6 separate regions of the Homo sapiens genome follow, and all the other regions are reported to be linked to region 6. Evidence: microRNA targets listed by miRTarBase, many of them from high-throughput screens and not tested one by one. Region 6 holds a microRNA gene; each other region holds the end of a gene's coding sequence.

Region 1 (4,101 bases), not on the chromosome of region 6:
CATTCATCTATTGGTGGACATTTGACTATTATAAATAGTGCTGCTATGAACATTTGTGTAAAATTATTTGTTTGAATGCCTGTTTTTAATTCTTTCAGTTCTACCTAGGAGTAAAATTGCTGGGTTGTATGGCAATCCTACGTTTAACTTTTTGAAGCAGTTGATTCTTATTTTTAAGGATGCTTTCCTCCATGTGGTTGTTATATCCTGGTGGGCCCGATGGCCCTTTGCACAGGGCTGGGCACCAGGAGCTGAGCCCACGTGCAGTGGGCAATGGAGAGCTGCCCCTCACCATCAGGTGCTCAGAGTCCTCATGGCCCATTGTCCTTCTTTTCTGTCTGGTTGGCCTCCACCACTCTAACCTGTCCATTCTGTCCCCAATAGATGTGCCCGTGGAGAAGCTGGCCGCCATGCCAGCCTTGCGCAGCATCAACCTCCGCTTCAACCCACTCAACGCCGAGGTGCGCGTGATCGCCCCGCCGCTCATCAAGTTTGACATGCTCATGTCTCCGGAAGGCGCAAGAGCCCCCCTACCTTAGGCCACCCTCCTCATGCCCACCCAGCAAGGGGCAGAGGCCACAGGCCTGGAACCCTGGAAGGGAGGGAGGCCCATGGGAGGCCAAGCCTGGGGGCTGGGGGCGGGTGGGCCGAGCAGCACGTGGTGGGTGGGGTGCAGCTGGTCTGGATAGATAGCTTACAGCAGTAGTGGGCTCTGGAATGCCCAAGGGAAGAGGCAAGGTGGGGCCTGCAGCCTGGACTCGGCACTCACAGCTGCTGTGCAAACTCAGGCAGATCTCCTGCCCTCTCTGAGCCTTGTCACTTGAAAAAAACAGGACCCTTTCCCTCCTTTGGGCTCCCTGGAGGTTTTTAAGCAGTACGTGCCTCCAAGTTACCTCCAGATCAGCAGGCACAGGTGGGCATTGCCAGGTATTTTCTGAGCCCCTGCGGGTTTGAGGCCTTGTTTTTAGTGCTGAGAGCCAGTTGCTGCCCTGAGAAGAGAAGACAACCTCCATCTATTTATTGCTTCCTGAGAACTGACCTGGATGCGGCCCTCTGCAGGGCCCAGTCTTCAGTCCTGTGGTCCCTGGACTGGTGGGAACCTGAACTAGGAGTCCTGGGAGAGCTGTGGTGGGAATATGGGCTGGCACTGCTGCAGGGCAAGAACATTCATGTAGGAGCCCGAGGACCAGCAGGCTGGGAATGGGGAGCAAGTCACGTCAGCTCTGTCATTCCCCACAGTTAACAAATTGGCGGGGTGGGAAGTCCTGAGTGCTCCGTCCCTCTAGCATCACTCCTGAGCTGCGGGAGAGGTGGCCCAGAGAACAGCAGAGTCAGTTACACCTGCAGCTCTTGTCTAAAGTGATTAGATGGCCACCCTCACCACTGTCCAGTCCAGCAGCAGCCTGGCTGCCTTGTCATGGCCTCCTGGGGGCAGAAGGCGATGTGGACCACGGGATTTGTAGCCAGCCAGCTCCCAGGCCAACGCCCAAAGCCCTGATGACCTGGTTCTTCTGAGGCCCTCAACCTGGCATCTTAGGGTATGGTCAGGCAACAGGGTGACCAGCTGTCCTGGTTTCCCAGGACATGGAACTTTCAATGCTAAAACTGGGACAGTACCCAGCAAGTGGGGATGGTTGGTCCCCTACCAGGAGAGGGCCTGGGGCTCTTGCTTCCCGAGAACGCCTGTGGCTTGAAGAACCTTGACTGCTTGGTCCTCAGGTATCTACCTCCCACCTTCTCCTCATCTGTGGAGCAAGCCAACTCAGTGCCCCAGACCCCACCTGATCTGCATCTTTGTTTGCATCTCCAGAGACACCTGAGGCCCCAGAGCTTGAGGCAAAGCCAGGCCGTCCAAATCCTGTGTGCCGTGGACGAGTGGCCACTTTACTACTCCTAAGGCTAAGATGTTGAGAGCTCAGACCACTGCTCAGAGCAGTAATCCCTGCTCAGAATGCTCCCAGTTCCCTCGTCCCTGCCCAGGTCTCTTGTCTCTTGGGAAGGAACTGATAGGTCGGGCCATTGTTGGGCCATCACTGAGCGCTCAGTATCTCAAGAGACTCTGTTCATTCTGCTCGTATCCCAAGGCCTGGTTGGTCAAACTCTGGGCAAAGGGTTTTCAGGATGAGGAGGTCAAGACAGGATCTCCAGAGCTACCGAGTTCATCTGTGGGTGTTGGGGGCAAGTGGGGGCTGAAGTCCTGTGCAGGCTGCGCTGGCCCCACCTGCCTTGTGCCCTGGAGTGGGGTTTCTCCTTGTTGAAGAAGAGGCATCCTTCTCTGATGTGCACAAACACAATGTATGACCAGAGCCTTGCAACTCAAAGTGTGGTCTGTGGACCAGCAGCGGCAGTGACACCTGGGAGCTTGTTAGGAATGCAGAGTCTAGGCCTCACCCTATACCTCCCGACTCAGACCCTGCATTTTAGCAAGACCCCCAGCTGATTCCTATAAGCACTTTAGAGTTTGAGAAGCAAGGACCTAGGCTGGGGATGTCCTCCGAGCAGAGGGTGAAGTTTCTCTCAGTTCTCTCCCTGCCACTTCCAGGGATCTGAGCCTGTGCTCAGCCTCCTCCCTAACCCACCCTGGGAGACACTTGGCCTGTTAGATTGTTCCAGAGTCTGCATGGCACTCCTGAAGAAGGGAGTGTGACCTGCAGTCACCAGGAGATGAGGGTTAGGTGTGCCCAGCCCTCCAGACCCGGCCTTTCTGGTTAACCCCTGCATGCCAAGCTGCCTGCTGCCCCAGGTCCTCACCTCAGGCCTTTGAAGGGGCAGCTTCTGGAAGTTGTTTTCTCCTCTGCTTGGAGAGTTTGCCCTTGTCTGTCTTGGAAAGTGTGGGCAGCCACAGATGCCCCCAAATCAGAGCTCACAGTGAGTGAGCCCCTAAGCTTCAGTCTGCAATAAAGAATGCATTGGTTTCATCTGCCTGGTTGGTGTTTGATTCATTCTCACTGTACAGACCTCCTATAGCCTGGGCGTCAAACCAGCCCACATGCAAGAGGGGTGCCCTCTTGTTGAAAGCACGAGGTAAAGAAGGCTAGAACGGGATGAAACGTGGATTATTCACAGGTGGGCACAGGTGCAGCCAAGCAGAATTGGTGCGTGCCCCCCAGCTGCGTTACTGCAGGATGGCTAAACATCAGGGGGAGACTGTGTATCTGGGAAAGGATGAAGAGACCCACTATCTCCACATTTCTCTCTTACCAGTGCCAGAAATTATTCCCTTAGTAATTTGTTCCTCTGAGTCCATGGTTCTCAAAGAGGGATCTCTGGGCCAGCAGCATCCGCAGCACCAGGAAGTTAGTTAGAAATGCGAATAGTTGACTCCACCCTAGATGTGCAGAATCTGAAACTCGGGGATGGGGCCCAGCACTCTTAACAAGCACTCCATGTGGTTCCGATGCCTGCTGAAGTTAGAGAACTACTGCTCTGGGTTCAATGTTAAAGTCAGGTTTTGCTTTTCTTAAGTCTGAGAGGCCAGCTTAAGTTTGCCTTGAGTTTTAGTCCAGATGCTCCATTGTTTCTAATTATTATTATTATTATTACTATTTGAGACGGAGTTTCACTATTGTTGCCCAGGCTGGAGTGCAATGGCGTGATCTCGGCTCACTGCAACCTCTACCTCCCAGTTCAAGAGATTCTCTTGCCTCAGCCTCCCAAGTAGCTGGGATTATAGGCGCCCACCACCATGCCTGGCTAATTTTGTATTTTTAGTAGAAATGGAGTTTCGCTATGTTTGTCAGGCTGGTCTTGAACTCCTGACCTCAGGTGATTCACCTACCCCGGCCTCCCAAAGTGCTGGGATTACAGGCATGAGCCCACTCCCAGCCGATCCATTATTCCTTTTATTTTATTTTTTATTTTTGAGACGGAGTCTCACTCTGTTGCCCAGGCTGGAGTGCAGTGGCACGATCTCAGCTCACTGCAACCTCCACCTTCCAGGTTCAAGCAGTCCTCCTGCCTCAGTCCCCTAGTAGCTGGGATTACAGGCATGCGTCACCATGCATGGCTAATTTTTGTATTTTTAATAGAGACCGGGTTTCACCACGTTGACCAGGCTGGTCTTGAACTCCTGGCCTCAGGTGATCCACCCGCCTCGGCCTC
Region 2 (4,101 bases), not on the chromosome of region 6:
TGAGATTGGATCCCGATCCTCCTGGGCTGGGTAGATGGTGGTGGAGTGGTTCCTCACTTTGAAATGAGGAACTAAATGAAAGAGCAGCCGAGTAACTTGCCCAGGTGGCATCTCACTGAGGGCTTTAAAATCTCCTTGGTTTAGTTTAGTTTGCGGATACATCTTTTATTTTTGCTTTTTCCTTTTCTCAGAGCTTGACAAAAGATTTGGGAGGCAATGCAAAATGCTCAGACTTCACAGAGGAAATCTGTCGCCGAGTAAAAGATTTAGATTAACACTTCTACAACTGGCATTTACATCAGTCACTCTAAATGGACACCACATGAACCTCTGTTTAGAATACCTACGTATGTATGCATTGGTTTGCTTGTTTCTTGACAGTACATTTTTAGATCTGGCCTTTTCTTAACAAAATCTGTGCAAAAGATGCAGGTGGATGTCCCTAGGTCTGTTTTCAAAGAACTTTTTCCAAGTGCTTGTTTTATTTATTAAGTGTCTACCTGGTAAATGTTTTTTTTGTAAACTCTGAGTGGACTGTATCATTTGCTATTCTAAACCATTTTACACTTAAGTTAAAATAGTTTCTCTTCAGCTGTAAATAACAGGATACAGAATTAACAAGAGAAAATGTCTAACTTTTTAAGAAAAACCTTATTTTCTTCGGTTTTTGAAAAACATAATGGAAATAAAACAGGATATTGACATAATAGCACAAAATGACACTCTTCTAAAACTAAATGGGCACAAGAGAATTTTCCTGGGAAAGTTCACATCAAAAAGAGTGAATGTGGTATATTTCTAAATGATATGGAAAATAGAGACAGATTTGTCCTTTACAGAAATTACTGAGTGTGAATAAAAACTTCAGATCCAAGAAATATATAATGAGAGATATAATTTTTGTTAATAAGACAAAGGTAATATATTGGATACAAAGACACAAATGTATTGTGTGTTCAATTATTTTGTTGTCTTGAGATTTAATATTCTTTCCAAGAGCTTTTAATGAAGCAGAGAGCTAGTACTTCATTTTCACTGGATACATTTTCAGCATCATGAGTTGTCACAGCCTCTGAGCCCCTGATCTGAAGCCAGAAGGGCTGAGTGTATTGTAAACTTATTCTTGCATGTTGCTGTCTGGGAATGGACCACACTACAGCAGGTAGTTCTGGGGGCGATACTGCCGAAAGGCCCGAACACATGTATTTTGGCTGCAATTGAGGAACTTGGGATGCTATTAATTTTGTATTTCAGCAACTGCCCCTTCTCCTATCCCAAAGCACCAATTACTGCCCTCTGCCTCAGCAGTACCAGTATAAGATGACATTCCAAAGACTGGAGGCAACTCAGCCTGAGTTAATTCACAAAATTATGCCATGCTGGGGCTTGAGCTTGAGCTTGGGCTTAGGCTTGGGCTCAGCTTTTGACCCTCAGGCATCTCCTTTCCCTTCCTGTCTTCCTCTCCCTTCTCCTCTGCTGCAGCATGATTTTCTTAATCTTCAGACACTCACTATTTTCATGAACAGTTACCCTCTGTCCCCACAACCAAAGACAACTCATGGCCTCCTTTGGCCCTTGTGTAACATTGCAAACCTGTGGCTTTGCAAAATGTACCCAGGTCACAAGGGGATTTTTTTTTTTTTAGCAATGATATCCCTGTCTGGGTCACTTTTTAAGCTTGTAACCGCCCCCCCAGACTTATAATCTTAAATGTATTTTCCTTTGTTTAAGCTGCTGCTTCCTCTGTTTCATTGGATTGTGCCAGTTATCAGTGGCTCTTGGGTTCAAAGTAATAAAGAATTCCAAAACTGAGATGTTTGCTTTCTCTACCTGTTTCCTGTTCAGATGCCTTCGGTCATTTTGGCTCAGCTTGCTACTGAGAATGGCTGCTTCCCGTATTCAGAATGGAAGTGGGGTGGTCTGGTGGCGACAGGCTAACGTAGAGCTGGCTGCTTTTATGAGAATGCGCCACTTGACCCCATCCTGCACCTTTGTTTATTCCAGGGCACTAATGGTCACTCGCATGCCCGCTGTGCACAGTCCTGTGAGTTAAATGCCCACTACTCTCTGCACTGGTCCCACCTGCTCAATTGACAAAAAAAATCAGGTCCTTGTTGACAGTTCTGTTAAAAGGTTTAATATTCAAATTATACATTAAATAGAATCAAACAGGCAGCAGCAGTTTTATTAAGCATCAAGTCAGTTGGCATGTGGGTGGCGGAGTGCCTGGTAATGGAATAATAGGGTCGGCGATGCCCGCCAAGATTCCAGAGTAAGTCAGGTCGCTAGGTGAGTTGTGACTGATTGCTTTTCCTGCAGCGCACGTGAGCAGTATCAGCCATCTCTCTCCTACCCGCTCCACAGCCTACTGCTGGCTGTCCTGTATGTGAGCTAGCAGCTTTTTAATCTACCTGGAACTAAGGCCAAAAATTATCAGCCCTTTCGTTCTGGAAGGAGAGCTGATCTCATTTGTCACCTGAACAAAAAGCAATACTTAAACTGAATTAAAACTACCCACACGTGAAGCTTCTTGGAATTGTCAGCTATTGTTGGCGTAAGACCTGGTAAATGTAGAGCCAGTGCTGTGCCCTGACCTGGAGATCTAACAGACTTGGCAGAAATGCCTGTGCCCAGACTGAAGAGACCTGGGGCTCAGGAAGAGGCTCGGAACGCCTGCCCTCTATTCTATAGAAACTGCAGGCATAGGCCCTGATTACATTTTTTGCTCTTGGTAAAAGGAGTCAATGATACCTTTGTACTTCTCCAAAACTGTGAGCCGTTTCAGTTTCATCGTGGGACCTAAAAGGGAAATGAGAAGAAATGAGTGAGGCCCAGGCTCTGAGAACTCTGAGAATGTGTGTGGTAAAGACTCACACTCAGTCCTATATATAACTCAGGAATTAAGCCAGATAATCAGGACCGTCAGTAGCCAGCCTCCAAGACAGTGATCGCTCCTGGTATTCATATGGCTTGTGTGTAGTCTCCTGTGTTATACCACTGGTTGTGGCCAGTGGAGTATAGATGAAGGGTTGGTATGTCACCTCTGAGAATAGGTTATAAAAGATCAGTTTCTTTTATACACATAGGAAAGTAGTGTAAGCTACATCTGCCTTTTCCTTGACCTGTACCCAGTTTTGACCCTCAGTCCATTTTCTCTGAAATGGATTTATTTGTTCCATCTCTTGAATGAATAAATTGTTGAAGCAATTAAAAAATAGACTAGGTTTCTGTCTTGGGCTTTCTCTTGGACCATTCTTCCTGGGCAAGCCGGCTGCCATGTTGTGAGGATACACAGCCCATGAGAGGCCCACTGGCCACACACGGATGTTTCTGGCCAGCAGACAGCAAGGAGCTGAGGCCTGCCGACAGCCACGTAAGTGAGCGCGGAGGTGAGCCTCAGCTGCAAGTGACTGCACCCAGCTCACATTGACTGTAATCCCGTGAGACCCAAGCCAGAACCACTCAGCTAAGCTGTTCCTGGATTCTTGACCCATAGAAATGTGGATAATAAATGTTTACTGCTTTAGGCTGCTACATTTTTGGGGTCATTTGTTACACAGCAATGTATTAGATAGCTAGTACACATCATCTCTGCATTTTTGTGAACGTTTATACAACGTTGGACATTATGCTTTGATGGTTGTGATGGGGGTAGGGGAAGCCCAGGTTATGGGGAGCCTCTGCCATGGTCTTTATGAGAGGTCTTCCCCTAATTACTTTTCTTAACCTTGATTTATCCCCCAAAAGCAAGTTTGAAAGAGCTCTGATTTGAGGTCCTGGGTAGCTTAAAGTGCCTAACTCACTCTTGACTGTGTAACTGGAAACTTTCTGTGTTAAAGTCATTATATTAACTGCTTAGTGAAGACATCTTCTGTCTCTCTGACCTTGCGTTCAATATGCTGGCAGCAGACAGCCAGATAAGCTCAAGGTCTCTGATTGCAGCTCAGCTTTGCTGTAGACAATTGCATCTGGGTTCAGCCGTGATGGATTTGAGGGAATCACACTGGCATAACCATTTCTACCTCTCCTGTTCTATGAACATCCCATGAACATCTCTTGGCTACAGCCAAGAGTGACTTCAGCTGAGGCTGCACCAGAGCC
Region 3 (4,084 bases), not on the chromosome of region 6:
TTTGGGGGAGGAGGAGGTAGGGATGGCTCCATTAGCTTCCTGTGTTCCCTCCCCCCATACTCCACCCCCAAGGCCAAAGTCACACCTGGGCTAGCTTAGCATCCCCAAAGTAGGAGGGAGAGACCTTTCAGCCCACATGCAAAGTAAAGCAGAAAAACCTTATTGTGTGTTAGCAGGAAGCGAAAGAGGAAAGGTATCCTATTCTTTTTTTTTTTTTTAATTTTTTGAGATGGAGTCTCACTCTGTTGCCCAGGCTGGAGTGTAGTCACTGCAACCTCTGCCTCCCCAGTTCAAGCGATTCTCCTGCCTCAGCCTCCCAAGTAGCTGGGATTACAGGCGTGGGCCACCACCCCCAGCTAATTTTTGTATTTTTAGTAGATAGGGTTTCACCATGTTGGTCAGGCTGGTCTTGAACTCCTGACCTTGTGATCTGCCCGCCTTGGCCTCCCAAAGTGCTGAGATTATAGGCGTGAGCCACCACGACAGCTAGGCTGTTTGTTTTTTTTTTTTTTGAGACGGAATCTCACTTTGTTGCCCGGGCTGAAGTATAGTGGCACAATCTTGGCTCACTGCAACCTTTGCCTTCTCAGATTCAGGACATTCTCCTGCCTCAGCCTCCCGAATAGCTGGTATTACAGGTGCGCGCCACCACGCCCGGCTAATTTTTTGTATTTTTAGTAGAGACAGGGTTGCACCACATTGGCCAGGCTGGTCTCGAACTCCTGGCCTCAAGTGATCCTTCTGCCTCAGCCTCCCAAAGTGGTGAGATTACAGGCGTGAGCCACCACGCCCAGCCAACTTTTATTTTTTGTAGCAAGAAAGGTCTTGCTGTGTTGTCCAGGCTGGTCTCGAACTCCTGGGCTCAAGTGATCCACCTGTGTCTCGGCCTCCCCAGTCACTGGGATTACAGATGTGAGCCACCATTCTTGGCAGGGCAGGGTTTTTGTCTGTTTAGGTAGCTGACTTCACATAGCAGATGCTCATCATTTGTTACATGAGTCAGTGCTCCACCCCAACCTGCACAGACTGCATCTGGCAAAATCTGAGAGCCTGTGGTGTACCGGGGTAGGCCCACCTCAGCCCACTCCCAGGACCACAGCCCTGTGCCTTCCACCCTCTACTTGCTGAGGCCGTGTTTCTCTGAGTCTTGGTCCTCTTTTGATTGAAAGTGGAAGGAGGGGCCAGGCACAGTGGCTCATGCCAGTAATCCCTGAGGCCGCAGATCACTTGAGGTCAGGAAACCCCGGCTCTACCAAAAAGATAAAAATTAGCCAGGTGTGGTGGCACACTCATGTAGTCCCAGCTACTCAGGAAGCTGAGGCAGGAGAATTGCTTGAACCTGGGAGGCAGAGGTTGCAGTGAGCCCAGATCGCGCCATTGCACTCCAGCCTGGGGGCGGAGTGTGCCTCTGTCTCAAAAAAAAAAAAAAAAAAAAAACGGGAAGGAGGGGGCTGGGTGCAGTGGTTCACACCTGTAATCCCAGCACTTTGGGAGGCCAAGGTGGGAAGATGGTTTGAGCCCAGGAGTTCCCGACCAGCCTGAACAACACGGTGAGACTTCGTCTCTACGAAAAATAAAAAAAAAAAAATGAGCCGTGTCTGATGGCACATGCCTGTAGACCTACCCAGGAGGCTGAGGTGGGAGGATCGCTTCAGCCCAGGAGGTTGAGGCTGCAGTGAGCTGTAATCTCACCACTGCACTCCAGCCTAGGCAACAGAGGGAGACTTTATCTCAAAAAAAAAAAAAGAAAGTGGAAGAGGGCCCAGCCCTAAGCTGGGTAGGAGTGCCAAGGCTGCTCAGCTGCTGCCATTCTTGCCTGGGAAGACTGGGGTGAGCCTATAGCTGGGGGACCCCCCAACGTTGCTCCAGGTCCAGCAGGTTTGAGGAGTTGGGAGGCAAGGGCATCTTAAAACCTGTGTGGGTTTGGTGGAGAACAGGTGGAGCCAGGCAGCTTCTGGCTCCAACAGGATGGGCAGTGGAGCCAGGAGGAGGGCATGGAAGGGCTAGGTCTGTGCCAATGATCATGTTCTGTAAGGTTGGACAGAGAACCCCCTCGCCCTCTTTCTCTTGAGGGTGTATGCATACAGAAGGGACAGACTCCAGCCTCCCTGGAAGGGCTTCAAGTAGCTAGAGGACTGAGTGGCCCTTCCCCCAGTGGAGCACACAGCCCCATGGAATCCAGCTCTCAGCACTCCTCACCTCCTCTACTACCAAGATGCAGTCCCCTCCACTCCCCTCCTCAGTCTCCCAGGTTCTACCCTCAGCCCCCTTCAGTCTATTCCCCACAGGAGCCAGAGGGATCCCCTGAAGATATAAAACGTATGATGTTGCTACCTCAAATACCCCCCAAAGCCTTCTCCTCACTTAAGAATAAAATCCTGGGCACAACGCAGTGGCTCAGGCCTGTAATCCCAGCACTTTGGGAGGCCGAGGTGGATCACCTGAGGTCAGGAGTTCGAGACCAGCCTGGCCAACATGGTGAAACCCTGTCTCTACCAACAATACAAAAATTAGCCAGGCATGGTGGCAGGCACCTGTAATCCCAGCTACTCGGGAGGCTGAGGCAGGAGAATGGCTTGAACCCAGGAAGTGGATGTTGCAGTGAGCCGAGATCGCGTCACTGCACTTCAGCCTGGGTGTCAGAGACAAGACTCTCAAAAAAAAAAAAAAAAAAAGAATAAAATCCTGGGCCAGGAATGGCTCATACTGGTAATCCTAGCAGTTTAGGAGGCCGAGGTGAGAGGGTTGCTTGAGCCTAGCAGTTGCAGACCAGCCTGGGCAACATAGGGAGACCCCGTCTCTACAAAAAAATTAAAGAACTAGCAGAGCATGGTGGTGTGAACCTGTGGTCCCTACTACTTGCGGGGCTGAGGTGGGAGGAGGCCAGGAAGTGGAGGCTGCAGTGAGGCAGTGAGCTGCGATCGTAGCACTGCACTCTAGCCTGGGCGACAGAGCGAGACCATCTCCCAAAAAAAAAAAAAAAAATTCCTGAATTCTCCCCACCATAATCCATTCATCCATCCTCCTCACTTAGGAGGCCCCCATCAGGCCCAAGCTGTCTCCAACCTGGCTGTTCCCTCTGCCTGGGACTCTGCCTCACCTCCCTCAGGACTCTAATCAAATGTCACCTAAAAGACATACCCGCCTCCTCCCTAGCTGCAAAAGGGCTTCCCCTTTTTGTTTGTGTCTGTCTCCTTCTGTAAGGGCAGGGAGGGTGTGGTCTGCGTGCTCCCAGCTGTTGTCCCAGAGCCTTGCAGAGCCCTGGCACATAATAGATGCTCCTAAGTGTCTGCTGAATGCACAATGCAACAGCTTTGGCCAAGCCAAAATGGAACTGTGAAGAGAAAGTGAGCCTAAGGTGGCACGGTAGAGATGCAGCAGTGAGGGGAGATAGGTCTTGGGGAAAGTCCAGGCCTACAGGAGGGGATGTGCCCCTGTCCTTCCTAACCCTTCCATATCCCGCTCCTTACTGGGTCAGGCCCAGGCTTTGACAGGTACAATGCCAGCAACAGGGGGAAGGCTTAGGTCCGACAGCGCAAAGAAGACAAACCAAGCACACAGCTCCGGCACTAAGTCAAGTTCTTTACTTCCCAGAAGTGATGGCTAAGGGGAGGGAGGAGGGTGAGAAGAGGAAGACAGAAAGAGCCAGAGAGAATGAGGAGGTGAGAAGGGGGGGACAGTAAACCACTGTTCTATGAAGTCTCACGAGGCAAGTGCTCAAGGTAAAAAAAGAGTCCTGGAGAATCGTCCACGGCTGCGGGAAGCATCTCGGTTTCCTTCTGCTTTTAAGTCCTCTCAGGGAAGGCTGTCGCCGCTGCCGCTGCATTAAATAGTTATGTACATCGCAGAGAGTCCCAGGCCATGGGCAGGTGGGGGAGGGGCGTCATTTCACCAGGGGCCGAGTTTTATCATCGTCACCGCACTGGTGAGCTTTGTACTTTTTCACTTCTGCCATGTACTTGGCCCACGCGTCACCTTTACTTGTTAATACCTGTGGAAAGGGGATACGGGTTAGGACGGGGGTGCCAGGAACCAGGGTCAGGACTGCCCTGAGACAGGTGACCCATTCCCAGTGTCACCCAGA
Region 4 (4,086 bases), not on the chromosome of region 6:
CTGGAGAACAAAACGCTAGGGCTGCTGGGCACCGAAGGCCGAGAGTGCCTAAGGCGCGGGCGGGCCCTGGGTCGCTGGGAACGCCGCAGCTGCCGCCGGCTCTGCGGGGACTGCGGGCTGGCGGTGGAGGAGCGCCGGGCCGAGACCGTGTCCAGCTGCAACTGCAAGTTCCACTGGTGCTGCGCAGTCCGCTGCGAGCAGTGCCGCCGGAGGGTCACCAAGTACTTCTGTAGCCGCGCAGAGCGGCCGCGGGGGGGCGCTGCGCACAAACCCGGGAGAAAACCCTAAGGGTTTCCTCTGCCCCCTCCTTTTCCCACTGGTTCTTGGCTTCCTTTAGAGACCCCGGTAATTGTGGAACCTAGGGAATGGGGAACCCGCTCTCCCAGACCTAGGGATCCTGAGAGGGAGAGACTGCAATTTCTCCAAAGCTTGCCACTTTCCAGCCTGTTTCCCCAATTCCTCTGTGCTCTCCTAGAGCTCTGTCTGAATCCTCGCAGCCACACCTAGGTCTGAGAACTCAGGCTTTGAGTTACTGATCTTCCTTGGATTAGGAGAACAGGTGTTCCTCCTCCCCTCTCCTAGCAGCCCTAATGTCTGACCTAGCCTATCAAGCCTTAGGCGCTGGAAGAACCCTTCTCAGACACGCAGGACCCAGGTAAAGTCAAAGCTTTGCCCTTTTGCCCACTGTCTGCTACCAGGGCTCACCCACTGCTGCACCTCTCTTCTGCACAGCTCCTCCCCTGCTACCTGCTGAGCCAGATTCCCCAGGAATCTTGAATGCTTTCTCTCCTCTTCTCCCTTTCCTTTCCCAGAAAAACTGAGGAAACTGGCCCCGGAAAAGCATGTCTTTGGGGTTGGTTCCTAGAGGCAGAGGTTGAAGATGGAAGAGGGAGCTCTGGAGTGCTAACTTGAACACCAAGGGTGCTACTCATCCCTATGGTATCATATCATGAATGGACTTTACTAGTGGGGCAATGACTTTCCTAGACAATAACCCGAGGGACTCCAGATACATACCCCGAAGGTCTAGGAAATACGTTAAGGGCAGATTACAGTCATTTCCTACCCTTTAAAGGTAACTTCTCCCTTCTCCTGACCTACTTCCTCCTAGCAACCAACTTTACCTCTTCTTCTCCAAAGGATCTTTGTTCCTCTGAGCCAAGACTGAGGTAAATAAAGCCACTTTCCTCTTCAGATCCTGGTCTGCACCTCTAGAGGCAGGTCCTAAGAAGGAGAAACTGAGACCCTTCCTTCTCACTAACCTGGTTCTCAAACAGGCAGGATTCAGAGCACTGGATATCTTCCTTCAATGAGTAAACTTCCTGCAATGAAACTGTTGCTTAGTAGGAAGTTCAGCACCTTGAACCTTAATTTATTGCAGTCATTGTGATATGTGCTCTTTTTCTAGGTACTGCACTTATTCTTGAGGATATTCGGGTGGGCTGTGGTAACAGATACAACCTGTAGGCTCTCTCCTCCCTCCCATCTTGGCAGGATACCATCCTCCCTAAAGCCTCACTTCCCTGGTGGCCCAAGCAGTTATCTGGATTGAGGCTAAGCTGCCAAGGATTAGTAAATCATCTATTTAAATCTTCTAATACATTCACTCAAGAGCCATGAGCTTGCTGCTTGTGGTACTTGAGTCTTCTGGTTTTATTCTCAGAGAGTACAGCAGGGACTTGTTTATGAAACAGAGCAAGACCTTGGGGAGGGAAGAACCAATCCCTGACAGACCCTCTGTAGCCCAAGGGGCTTCCCAGCCAGCTTCCTTGCCCTAGGACAGTCCCAGGTCTGGGGCTGGGCAGCTCTTCTAGAGCAGAACTGGTCAGATGCTAGACGACCTCAACCTTCCTCTCCCAGAGTAGGAAAAGCAGTGTGGCTGGCTCCAGGCAACAAAAGCCAAGACTCTAGGGGTTCACCTGTAAGAGTCAAGGGTTCCCGTATTCCAAACTAAGGCAATGGCCAGGTCAGATCCCAAACCCTTGGCCTCACCCACACACCTTCTGGTCTTACCAACACTTACTGAGGAGAGAGTTTCCCCTTCCTGACCGGGGATACACTTCCTTTCAGGTGTTCTTAGTGCTTCATTTCCAGCTTTCTCAGCAAAAGGCCCTTCACGCCTTCCCTCTGCTTTTATCTGAACCTCCTGAATCTCCCAACTCACCTTTTCTCCTTAATCAAGAAGCAGCATATACTAACCTACCTGTCCCACTTTGCAGAATTACTTTATAATGTACACGAAGAAAGTTTGGCAAGGCAGCTAGAAAATTTAAAAGCACAATGTTGTAAAGTAAAGCTACATTCTCCAGGTCTCTTAGCATAAAAGCAGAACTATTGTGCTTCATATTTGGTAACTCCAGGTCAGCACTCTAAATACGTCATGCCGCCAGAACATTATTTCATAGGTTATTGTTTTATACCCCCAAATGGATACCAGATTCATTCCAGTTCTACCAAGAAAACATGACTGAGATGCCTTGGATCTGTATTGCTTTTCCCTTCCTTTTGCAATATCCACTTGTTCATTTGTTCATTCAACAAACACCAGAGTAGAGATAGTGGTGAACAACCACCATTGCTGCATCACGGAGTTTAAGTTCTCATCTTACACTCAATTGCCAGGGCCGTGGTCCCTTTACAAAGTAGACAACTCCAGAACTGGTGCTTGGGAAGACATCTTTGAGGTCAGCCAGTCAAACCTTTTGTGTTACAGATTTAAACTGATGCTGAGAAAGATGACTGGCTTCTTCCCCCAACTAGTAAGTTACTGTGGGGAGAGTGCAGAGCACAGGCCCCTTCCACCTCTTGTGTGCTCTTCAGGAGCCCATCTGTCTCAGCCAGAAGACAGAAACAGAGGGAGGCCCTGAGAAGTGACAAGGACATTGGTTGGGGTGGGCAAAACACTGTCTCCTTCCTGTCCCTGGCCTGTGAGCCTAAACACAGGCAGAGCTTTTTCTTTTTGAAAAGAATCGCAGCCTCAACTGGCCTTAGCAGCAGGTTAGGGCAAAGACAGAGACGGGGTCGTCTTCGGCGCTGGTGGTGCTGGCGGTGGTGGGAGGGGAGGGCAGGCCAGGGCACTCGCCTATTGTAGGTCTGGATTGGATGCTTCCACTCATTCATTTCCTTTTAATTAACCCGCATTCCTGGAGGAGAAATATTTATGTTGGCTCCCATAGAGGCAATCCTCAGACTGGAAAGAAGGGGGAAGAAAGCCTGTCTTAGCAAAACAATATCTCTAAAGAGCTCAAGAAGAGAAAATAGGAGAACAAAATGCCATTAAAATAGCCTTCTACCCCCACTGGAGTCAATGAAAACTTCATTTCACATGCTAATCCGCCACTCCGCCCCCTTGTCTTCTCACAACACCTTTTCCGAAAGTGTTTGGGAAAAGTCTTCGCAGTCAGTACACAGCTCCCTGCAGCTCAGACTTCTCCTTGTGTTAGTTCAGGGCCCCAAGTGGGGCTCTCGCTCCAGCAGCGGCTTTTTTCTCCCCCACTTTAATTTAAACAAAGACTTCGGAGTTCATCAACCTCCCACTGAAATTCACAGCTGCTGAACAAACTAATCCCCTCTCCCGGCCTTTCTTCCCTTCAATGGGCTCTTGGCTTCAAAGACACTTTGGGAAAGGACTTTGCTAGGGCTCACACTGCTTCATCAATAGAAGTTAGTGCAAGTATTATCTGAAGAGCAAGTGGCTTTACAAACAAATACTGCCTAACAATCCCTCCCTCCCAAACACACACACATCTAGCCCGCAGACATGATGGGATCTACAACAGGATTAGGGCTAGCATCCCCTGGCTTCACACCCAGTCCCTTTGTATAGCTGAGCTCAGCCCTGAAGTGGGGTAGGGAAAACCCTGGAACTGAACACCAGGCACGGATGAAGGGAGACAATCCCCCCACCCTCAACACACCCAGCAGAGTGACCACAAATGCTGCAAGGAGAGAACCTAATTCAGTGGGAATGGACACCTTCCTTTAACTTTCTTGATTTATCTCTCCCTAAGCCTCTCCCCTGCCTTACTAGGGTGCAGGAAGCAAGAATAAAGAGGACTAGAAAGGTAATGGCAAAATAGAACCCAG
Region 5 (4,000 bases), not on the chromosome of region 6:
TGCCTTCCTGCCCCGCTGCAGGCTGGCTTTGGTTATGGGCTCCCCATTTCCCGCCTCTACGCCAAGTACTTCCAGGGAGACCTGCAGCTCTTCTCCATGGAAGGCTTTGGGACCGATGCTGTCATCTATCTCAAGGTGAGGGCCCTTCCCGCAGAGCCCAGCTGGAGAAGAGCTTTGCTGATAGGACCTGGGCAGCCTTGGCCAGCTGCGAGCTTTCCTTTCCATCCCCCCAGTCCTTCCCTGGCCCCAGACTCTGAGAATCCAAGCAAAGCTACAGTTCCTCAACCTGAAGAACCCTCAACCCCCAGACACGCACTGCTTGTCAGGGAATTTAGGGGAGTCTGTGGTCTATGATTAAGACCCCTGTGCTGGGAACCCTTGACTTGTTAGACCCAGAAGGAAGGGGACACCCTAGGTCTTGCCATTCAGTTCAGAGGAGAAGACTGAGGCCCGGAGTCCGTGACTTGCTCAGGGTCACACAGCCCAGCCTCCTCCCCCTCCCTCTCCCTCCCTTAGAGGGAGCTGCTTGCTTGAATGGGCAGGAGCGGGACACAGGAGGGACCACCCTTTTGTGGTCTTTCCAGGCCCCCGTGTCTGGCAGCTGGGCTGCCGCTGAGCTGGGGTGGGGTGGTCTGCTGAGGAGTGGACAAGGCACAGGGAGGTGGGAGGGGCTGACCCTGACACTCCCCAGGCCCTGTCCACGGACTCGGTGGAGCGCCTGCCTGTCTACAACAAGTCAGCCTGGCGCCACTACCAGACCATCCAGGAGGCCGGCGACTGGTGTGTGCCCAGCACGGAGCCCAAGAACACGTCCACGTACCGCGTCAGCTAAGGGCCGCCGTGCATCTGCACCTGAGAGGACGGACTGCCGCCTCTGGGTCCCCCCACCGTGGTGCCCCTCACCATCCTCCTGGGGGAGCAGGGGGTGGGTTCTCCCTGATGACCAGGTTCTGTCTCTATGGAAGTCACTGCGGTGATAGGTCTGTGATGGTCCCTAAGTGCCAGTCCATCTCTGTGGAGACCCCTCGGTGGCCTCCCTATCTCTGTGGGCGATGCCTGAGGGTTAGGGATGTCTCCACCCTGATGGGGTGTCCCAGAGACATTTTCCCATGGCAGTCCTCCTCTCTGAGACCAGGGCTGTCACTTTTCTGCCAGGGGTACTGGGTCCCCCTCAGCACCCTCCACAGCACAGGCCTTCCAAGTGGATGTCCCGTTGCCTTATTCCCCCAGCCCACAAAGGCACCCTGGCCTTGGCCTGCTGAAGTGTTAGGAAGAGGGTGGGTGCCCTCCAGACCTGGGGACTGAGTGGGGAAAGGAGTTACACCCGTGAGTGGGGAATGAGGCTGGTCCTGCAGCCTCTCCCTCCGCTCAGGGCTTGAAGGTCGGTGGCGGAGGGGGTGGCTCTCACAGGGCCCAACTCTAAAGTGGAAGAACCTTGTTAGACCGAGAGCTTGCCATCCAGCCAAGCTGCTCGAGGCCCTGCAGTGGCCTTGGCAATGTCTGTGCCACCTCCTGAGCCCTCCCAGCATGTCCTCACATGCTCATGCCCACCCGCTCCTCCACAAGCCTAGTCCATCCTGCCTGAGCTCCAGCCCCCAGCCCCCACTGTGCCCAGACATGTGTGCTCAGGGTGGCTTTCTCCCTAGGACCTTCTGTGTATATAGTTAGTTTTATAACCCTGAATGCCCCCACCCTTCCCCTAAGCACACAGGGGTTAAAGCTGTGTGTCCCTCCCAGTGGCTGTGGCAGTGACAGTGACACCCACACCCACAGTAAAGAGGAGACTGAATGAGACTGGCCTGGCTGCATCCCTGGGGGAGGGGACCCACACGTGCGCACGTACACACGCACACTGCGGTGCCCTGTGACCACCACATGACGCACCGGGGACGTCCGGCCCAGCTCAGGACTGTGAGTAAAACACTGGGCAAAGCCATCTGTTCAGAACGCCGGATGGCCCAGCACCTGGTGACAGACCTGTTGTCCCACCATACTCAGGGCCCAGCAGAGTCCGGCCAACCCAACAACTGGAGCAGACAGAAATTCTGGTCACTGGCACATCATAAGGATTTATTGAAATAAATTGAGAACTGCCTCCCCTTCACATGCAGGTGGGCACCCACTATAGCTACTGATGGCTTTAAGGATGTGGGTGCCTTCCAACCTCCCATGGCCCTGCCACCAGGCCCAGATGGTGCCAGTGTCCTCATATCTGTTTCCCTCCGAAGCCCCTCTCCCAGCACAGATAGCAGAGGGGGGATAAGGGCTGAGTCCCAGGTACAGGGTGCTGGCCGTAAGCCACAGCCCCTGGGCAGGAATGAGGGAGCCAGCATGCATTGGTGCCATCTGCCGCTCTGTCTGGGCAGATGGGAGGAGCTGGAGGGGTTTCCAAGCGGGAGCCCCCAGGCCTCATCGGTAACTCTGACCAGTGTCCTGGAAGCGGGACTAGCTGCTGACCAGCGCCACACATGAACACTTCCTCCAAGGACATTTCCTAAAAAGGACACATGCTGTCCCCAGGCTGCTGGTAAACTCCACCCCCATCCAGGGAGCTGGCCCCAGCCCTCAGTGTGGCCCAGGGAAGCAGAGCTTGCACCGCCTGCCAGTTCTGAGCCCACTGATTCCCTGACAATGCCTGGGGCAGATGGGGGAGGGCTGATGAACCTTTCCAATCTCGTAGCTGCCGGGGACCCCCAGGTTTTGCCTCTCTGCCTGGCTGGGGTGAGGGCTGACCAGGTCAGCAGCTCCTAGGCCTTGGCTGGTGGAAGTGGTGTCCTCTGTCCCTATCAGTTCCTGTTTGCTCAGCTCCCAAAGAGGACTTAGGTGCCCTCTGAGGAAGCAGCAGGAAGTGAAGGGAGTCCTGGCTTGGAGAATGGGTCAAAGACCAGGTCTTGAATGGGCCCTGAGAGGCAGACCTGTGTGGTGTCATCTCGCCCCCTGGGACCCACAGGACAGAGGAGGGGAGAGGGAGAAGGGGATGTTCATCCTCCCCTCTTGAGTCCTGGCAAAGACTGCACTCGCCCCAGGCTGCTTTCTCTGCGCTCCTGTTGAGGAGTTTGGCTGGGAGTCTACCCTGAGTGCGACTTGCTGCAGCGCCCACTGGCCTCTTGGGGGAGCAGGACAGAGCTCTCCCACCACACAGCCCCCTGGAAGAGTGGAGAGGAGCCGCTCCCACATGGGCTCCTGCTGAAATGCCCAGCCCAGCTCTGAGCCCTGGGGCCCGGCCTCAGGGCCTCTGGCAGGCAAGCAGGCAGGCAGGCCTCCTAGCTCCCCTCCACCCCAGCCCCACGATGGCCTGAGGGCAATGGGACAGCCTGACCCAGCCTCCCAGACTTGCCTCAGCCCTGGCCTCTCTGCCCTCTCCCCTTCATCTGCTCCTCCCCCAGGAACTCTGTGCCAAACAAGTCCTCAAAATAGGATTTATTACTAGGCCCTCTCCCTGGGGTCTCCCTTTCTGGGGTCTCTGGGTCTAGACCAAGTGACAGGGTAAGAGAGAGCATGTCCCCCCTGAGAGCGTGGGACCAGGCTAGCCCAAGTGCAGCGCCCAGGTCCAGCCTCCCTGGTGAGGCCTGTGCCCGCGGAGCCAGTGGCTGCCCCTGCCGGGTGCCAGCGCCTGTGCACCCTCCCCTAGCTCTTCTTGGCCTCCTGCTCTCGGCGCCGGAGCTTCTCCCGCTGCCGCGCAGCCTTCTCCTGGGCCTTGCGCTCCTTCTCGGCAGCTGCTGCCATCTCCTTCAACTTGCGCTTCACCAGTGCCCGGTCATGAGAGTTGCTGAGCCCCAGGCTCTGGGGAGGAGTCCGGGGTGAGGGAGAGAGTCCCAGAACCTTCCCAGTCCTGGCCTCCCACGCCCAGGCTCCTTTTGCCCCAGGTGTACTCTGTGGAGCTCCAAATCCTCCCTGGAGTGGAGCCTCCGCCTCCCACACCGTGACCTGCCCATGGATCAGAACCCCCAGAGCAAGAATTTGGAATGAGTGTGGTTGGGAAAGATGAGGGTTGGGGGTA
Region 6 (4,101 bases):
CACCTCCTCTCCCAGTGACAGACCCAGGTGACAGTATTTTTTTTTTTTTTTTTTTTTGAGATGGAGTCTTGCTGTGTCACCCAGGCTGGAGTGCAGTGGCGCAATCTCAGCTCACTGCAAGCTCCGCCTCCCGGGTTCACGCCATTCTCCTGCCTCAGTCTCCCGAGGAGCTGGGACTACAGGCGCCTGCCACCACGCCGGCCTAATTTTTTTGTATTTTTTAGTAGAGACAGGGTTTCACCGTTAGCCAGGATGGTCTCGATCTCCTGACCCCGTGATTAGCCTGCCTCAGCCTCCCAAAGTGCTCGGATTACAGGTGTGAGCCACCGCACCCGGCCGACAGTTTTTAAAAGTAGGTAATCAAAAGAAAGAACTGGGAAATGAAGATGAAAGCAGCATGGAAATAAAAAATGGGAACACGGCCAGGTGTGGTGGCTCACACCTGTCATCCCAGCACTCTGGCAGGCCGAGGCAGGCGGATCACCTGAGGTCAGGAGTTCGCCTGGCTGACATGGTGAAAAATTAACTGGGTGTGGTGGTGTGCACCTGTACTCCCAGCTACTCAGGAGAATCGCTTAAGGGGAATCGCTTAAACCCAGGAGCTGGAAGTTGCTGTGAGCCAAGATCACGCCATTGCACTCCAGCCTGGGCAACAGAGCGAGACTCCGTCTCCAAAAAAAGAAAAACGAAAACAAAAAGGGAATGCCAGAAGGGCAATTCCAAAGAAAGGAAAATGGAGGTATTGAAGAAACAGCCACGGGGAGGGTGCTGGCGCCTCCGTCTGAGAGACGAGCTATGCAGTCAGGATCGCGGGTGGATGCATGGTCTCCCACAGTGGTAGCGATGCTCACGTAACTTGTGGGGCTACGCTACTGTGTAGAACGTGGGCTGCCCACCCTGACTGACTGGCACCTACTTCCAGCTAGGAGCTGTCCTAGTCCTCAGGGACAGTGAGTGCTCACGAGGTCATTCCCAGGATGAACACACGAGCCCTTCACACAGCACTGCAAAAACTGCCTTGTTCTGACGCCTGCGACGAGACTCACTCCCAGAGGGTGCAACCAGCACAGCCAGTGAGAGCAGGGGAGGCCCTGCCACCCCGCCGCGCCCCTCACCTGAGCCCCGGCCCCAGCCTGTCTTGACGAGGATCTCGTACTTGAAGCGGCCCCGCTGCCCACAGAAGGGGATGGCGCAGCCCCGGCTGGCATCCAACTGGTCCAGCTTGTGCAGGATGGCGGCCATGACCATGTAGGTCACCAGGCACACAGCACATGTCAGCATGACGATGTAGTTTACATCCGCTGTTGGCTCCTGTGAAGACACAGCCGCCAGGCCCAGGAGGTCACGTGCAAGCTGTGCCTTCTCAGGATAGAGCCGAGCCCACCCAGGCCCTCCTCGACTCTGCAGAGGCTCCCAGGAGCACAGGGTCACTCACAGGAAACACAAAGCGTACATGGCTTGGGGGCATGAAGAGGCTGGTGCCGAAGGCGGTGAGGTGGCGGGTGAGGCAGACGGCCTGGCGGGGCGAGGTCTCCTCCAGGGGCAGCAGCCCCTCTGTCCGCCACACCACGTCCTCCTCGCTGAAGTACTGGCACAGGGACGTGTACAAGCCCACGGACACCTCCAGCGCCGACCAGCGGAAGTGGCTGGAGAGGTTCAGACGGTAACTCCCCACTGGGTCTCTGGTCCTGGGAAGGGAAGGGGCAGTGGACGTGAGCCCAGGCTCCGCCAGGTTGGATGTCGGAGTCCCAGAGCCCATACCCGGTCCAGTCCCCTCGCTGCCTGCCGTCCCCACGGGGCCCGTAACCCGGGCAATGCTGACCCATGATGCCCTGCCCTGCCCTGCCAGGCCGGCCCGCAGAGCTCACCCCGGGGAAATGAAGAAGGTGTAGGGCCGGTGGTCGGCACCCTGGAGGGACTCTGGGCGGATCCTCCTGCTAGCCGAGCAGTTGCGCTCATTGGGCCGGGGCTCCGAGTGCAGGTAGACTGCCAGGTAGGGCTCGGGTTCCTCAGACAGGTAGCGGCCTGGGGCAGAACGCGCAGGTCACACGCCTGCCGGGAAGCTCAACCACCCGGGGGACACCCACGATGGCCCTCCTGAGCCCACCCTCTGCCATGGGCCTGAAAGGCCATAGGAGCCTCTGCACCAGAGCTGGCACCTGCTTCTCCGTGGCCCCCAGCTCCTCTCCGGCCAGGCCCCCAGCAGCCCATGAAACAGAAAGCAAATTTCACCAGAGACACCCATGGAAGCCCTACGAGAAACGCCTTCCCCCCAAGAACAAGGCCAGGGGGCCGCGTGTGCCCCAACCGCTGCATGCACCGTCCAGCAGCGTATAGTTGAGCTGCAGATGCAGCACGGCCGCAGGGTTGCTGCTGTCCAGGGTGACCACAGCACCGACGGAGGCCTGGGGCTGGACCACAACGGAGTTGGCGGAGCTGCGGTGGCCCCGGGCAGCCCAGTCCGAGTTGTTGGGCACCTTCACGGTGAGGCGCGCTCTGAGGCCAGCCGCTCGATGGGGATCTGGGCGCCGGCCTGTGTCTGGAACGCCATCGAGGCCACCTTGGTGGAGACGGTGTAGTTGCTGATATAGCCAAAGGGAAAGGGATTGGAGTCCACCAGAAAGATGAGCTGCACCACGTCACTGAGGTTGGCCGGGGCCCTGCTGAAAGCCTAGGGGATGGAGAAGTGGCAGCCAGGCCCTGGGGCGCCGCCATAGCACAGCAGGCTCCGCGGGTCCGAGCGCTTGCCCTGGGCCACGATCTCCTCACCCGCCAGCGTCAGGGGCTCCTCGTTGAGCACGCGGGAGCGCGTGACGATGGGCGTGAGGGCAGAGGTCAGGTTGTAGGCCTGGGACGCCACCATCCGCGATGGTGACTCGGCTCCCAGCTCTGAGCGCTGTGGTGCCCGCACGTCTGAGCTGGCCAGGTGGATGAGGTCTCCTGCAGACAGGCGTGAGGTCAGTGCAGAGACAGGGAGGCAGAGGGAGGGTGGGGGCAGGCAAAAAGGGGGAGCCGGAGGGTGGGGACTGGGAGAAAGGGGGAACCTGAGGGGGCAGAGAGCGAGGTGCAGGCAGAAGGAAGAGGGAAGCTGGAGAGAGAGTGGTGGAGGGGGAGGGGGAAGGGGATGGGGATGAGGACGAAGATGAGGGGGATGATGGGGAGAGGGAGGAAAAAGGAAGGAAAAGGGTAGAGAAAAGAGAAAGGGGAGAAGAAGAGGAGCAGGGTGAAAGGGAGGGGAAGGGGATAAGGGGGATAAGGGAGGGGAAGGGGGATAAGGGAGGGGAAGGAGGATAAGGGGGATAAGAAAGATGAGGGGAATGGACAAAAGGACGGGGAGGATCGGGGGGGAAATGGAGAAAAGGGGAGAGAGATGGAGAAAAGGGATGGTAATAGGGAAGGGGGAGGGGGAGGAGAATGGGAATTGGGGGAGGGGGATAAGGATGGGAATTGGGGGAGGGGGATAAGGATGGGAATTGGGGGAGCGGGATGAGGATGGGAATTGGGGGAGGGGGATGAGGATGGGAATTGGGGGGAGGGGAGGGGGACGAAGATGGGATGGGGCAAAGGCGAGGCGGTTGTGGGGAGGAGGGAGGCAGAGGAAAGGGCGGCATGGGGCGGACGGGCCACGTGGGGCGGGCGGGTGGCGTGGGGCACGGGCCGCGGCACCTGTGATGTTGAGGATGCTGTCTCCGATGGCGGTGGGCGTCACGGTGCCCGCGGTGGTCTCTGCCTGCAGGATGCGCATCATGGCCTCCAGCTTGTGCAGCGTCTGCTTCAGGCACGAGCGGCATACGAGCTCCCTGCTGGGCCCCTGTGTGGAGCCAGCAGTGTCCAGCCCCGCTCCTGGCCCCACTCCTTGCACACGCCCTCCTCTCTACACGGGTCCTCACCTGGCTCCCACCCCCAGCCCTGCAGCTGGAGAGCCCACTTGACTGGACCCCCACAGCCTCCTCACTAAGCATTTTTTGTGGCTCTGCATGACCCAGGGCCTCCACCTGGGGAACACGTGATGCAGCCCACTGACCACACAAGGCACCTCTTCACATGAGAGAAGGAGGAGGGCAGAAGGGAGAGAGGAGAGGGAAGTGGAGAAAAGGGGGG

What was found. Region 6 holds the annotated microRNA hsa-miR-6770-5p (UGAGAAGGCACAGCUUGCACGUGA, at 1,343-1,366, opposite strand). A microRNA usually pairs through its seed, bases 2 to 8, with sites in the 3' UTR of a target mRNA and lowers its output. Matches are read on the target gene's strand: a 7mer-m8 pairs with bases 2 to 8, a 7mer-A1 pairs with bases 2 to 7 and ends in A, and an 8mer does both.
Region 1: the mRNA of LRRC20 is a reported target of hsa-miR-6770-5p. Seed matches in the 3' UTR shown: 7mer-m8 at 1,734-1,740 and 7mer-m8 at 2,270-2,276.
Region 2: the mRNA of IDH3A is a reported target of hsa-miR-6770-5p. Seed matches in the 3' UTR shown: 7mer-m8 at 1,263-1,269 and 7mer-m8 at 1,465-1,471.
Region 3: miRTarBase lists TRIR as a target of hsa-miR-6770-5p. Seed matches in the 3' UTR shown: 8mer at 3,664-3,671 and 7mer-A1 at 3,623-3,629.
Region 4: the mRNA of WNT8B is a reported target of hsa-miR-6770-5p. Seed matches in the 3' UTR shown: 8mer at 632-639 and 7mer-m8 at 1,086-1,092.
Region 5: miRTarBase lists SAMD14 as a target of hsa-miR-6770-5p. Seed matches in the 3' UTR shown: 7mer-m8 at 2,969-2,975.

The regions. Positions count from the first base shown.
Region 1 is chr10:70,297,792-70,301,892 of GRCh38, reverse strand. LRRC20 (leucine rich repeat containing 20) reads left to right here. Exons shown (of 5, transcript NM_001278212.2): 5 at 385-2,918. The coding sequence ends at 539. Among named protein-coding and RNA genes, the nearest start is that of NPFFR1, 16 kb to the right of the region's middle.
Region 2 is chr15:78,168,731-78,172,831 of GRCh38, forward strand. IDH3A (isocitrate dehydrogenase (NAD(+)) 3 catalytic subunit alpha) reads left to right here. Exons shown (of 11, transcript NM_005530.3): 11 at 192-3,215. The coding sequence ends at 275. ACSBG1 (acyl-CoA synthetase bubblegum family member 1) reads right to left here. Exons shown (of 14, transcript NM_015162.5): 14 at 1-2,799. The coding sequence ends at 2,714. Among named protein-coding and RNA genes, the nearest start is that of IDH3A, 21 kb to the left of the region's middle.
Region 3 is chr19:12,727,078-12,731,161 of GRCh38, forward strand. TRIR (telomerase RNA component interacting RNase) reads right to left here. Exons shown (of 3, transcript NM_024038.4): 3 at 3,563-3,991. The coding sequence ends at 3,884. Among named protein-coding and RNA genes, the nearest start is that of TNPO2, 5.2 kb to the left of the region's middle.
Region 4 is chr10:100,482,529-100,486,614 of GRCh38, forward strand. WNT8B (Wnt family member 8B) reads left to right here. Exons shown (of 6, transcript NM_003393.4): 6 at 1-1,216. The coding sequence ends at 288. Among named protein-coding and RNA genes, the nearest start is that of WNT8B, 22 kb to the left of the region's middle. RefSeq lists enhancers at 1-411, 2,432-3,208, 2,557-4,049, 3,209-3,984.
Region 5 is chr17:50,109,266-50,113,265 of GRCh38, forward strand. It overlaps SAMD14 (sterile alpha motif domain containing 14), which reads right to left. Exons shown (of 10, transcript NM_001257359.2): 10 at 775-3,783. The coding sequence ends at 3,628. PDK2 (pyruvate dehydrogenase kinase 2) reads left to right here. Exons shown (of 11, transcript NM_002611.5): 10 at 22-135; 11 at 692-2,887. The coding sequence ends at 832. Among named protein-coding and RNA genes, the nearest start is that of PDK2-AS1, 8.9 kb to the left of the region's middle. RefSeq lists enhancers at 2,532-3,217, 3,218-3,903.
Region 6 is chr16:16,326,575-16,330,675 of GRCh38, reverse strand. It overlaps MIR6770-2 (microRNA 6770-2), which reads right to left and starts at 1,371; the gene lies at 1,312-1,371. It also overlaps the pseudogene LOC131696449 and the pseudogene PKD1P1.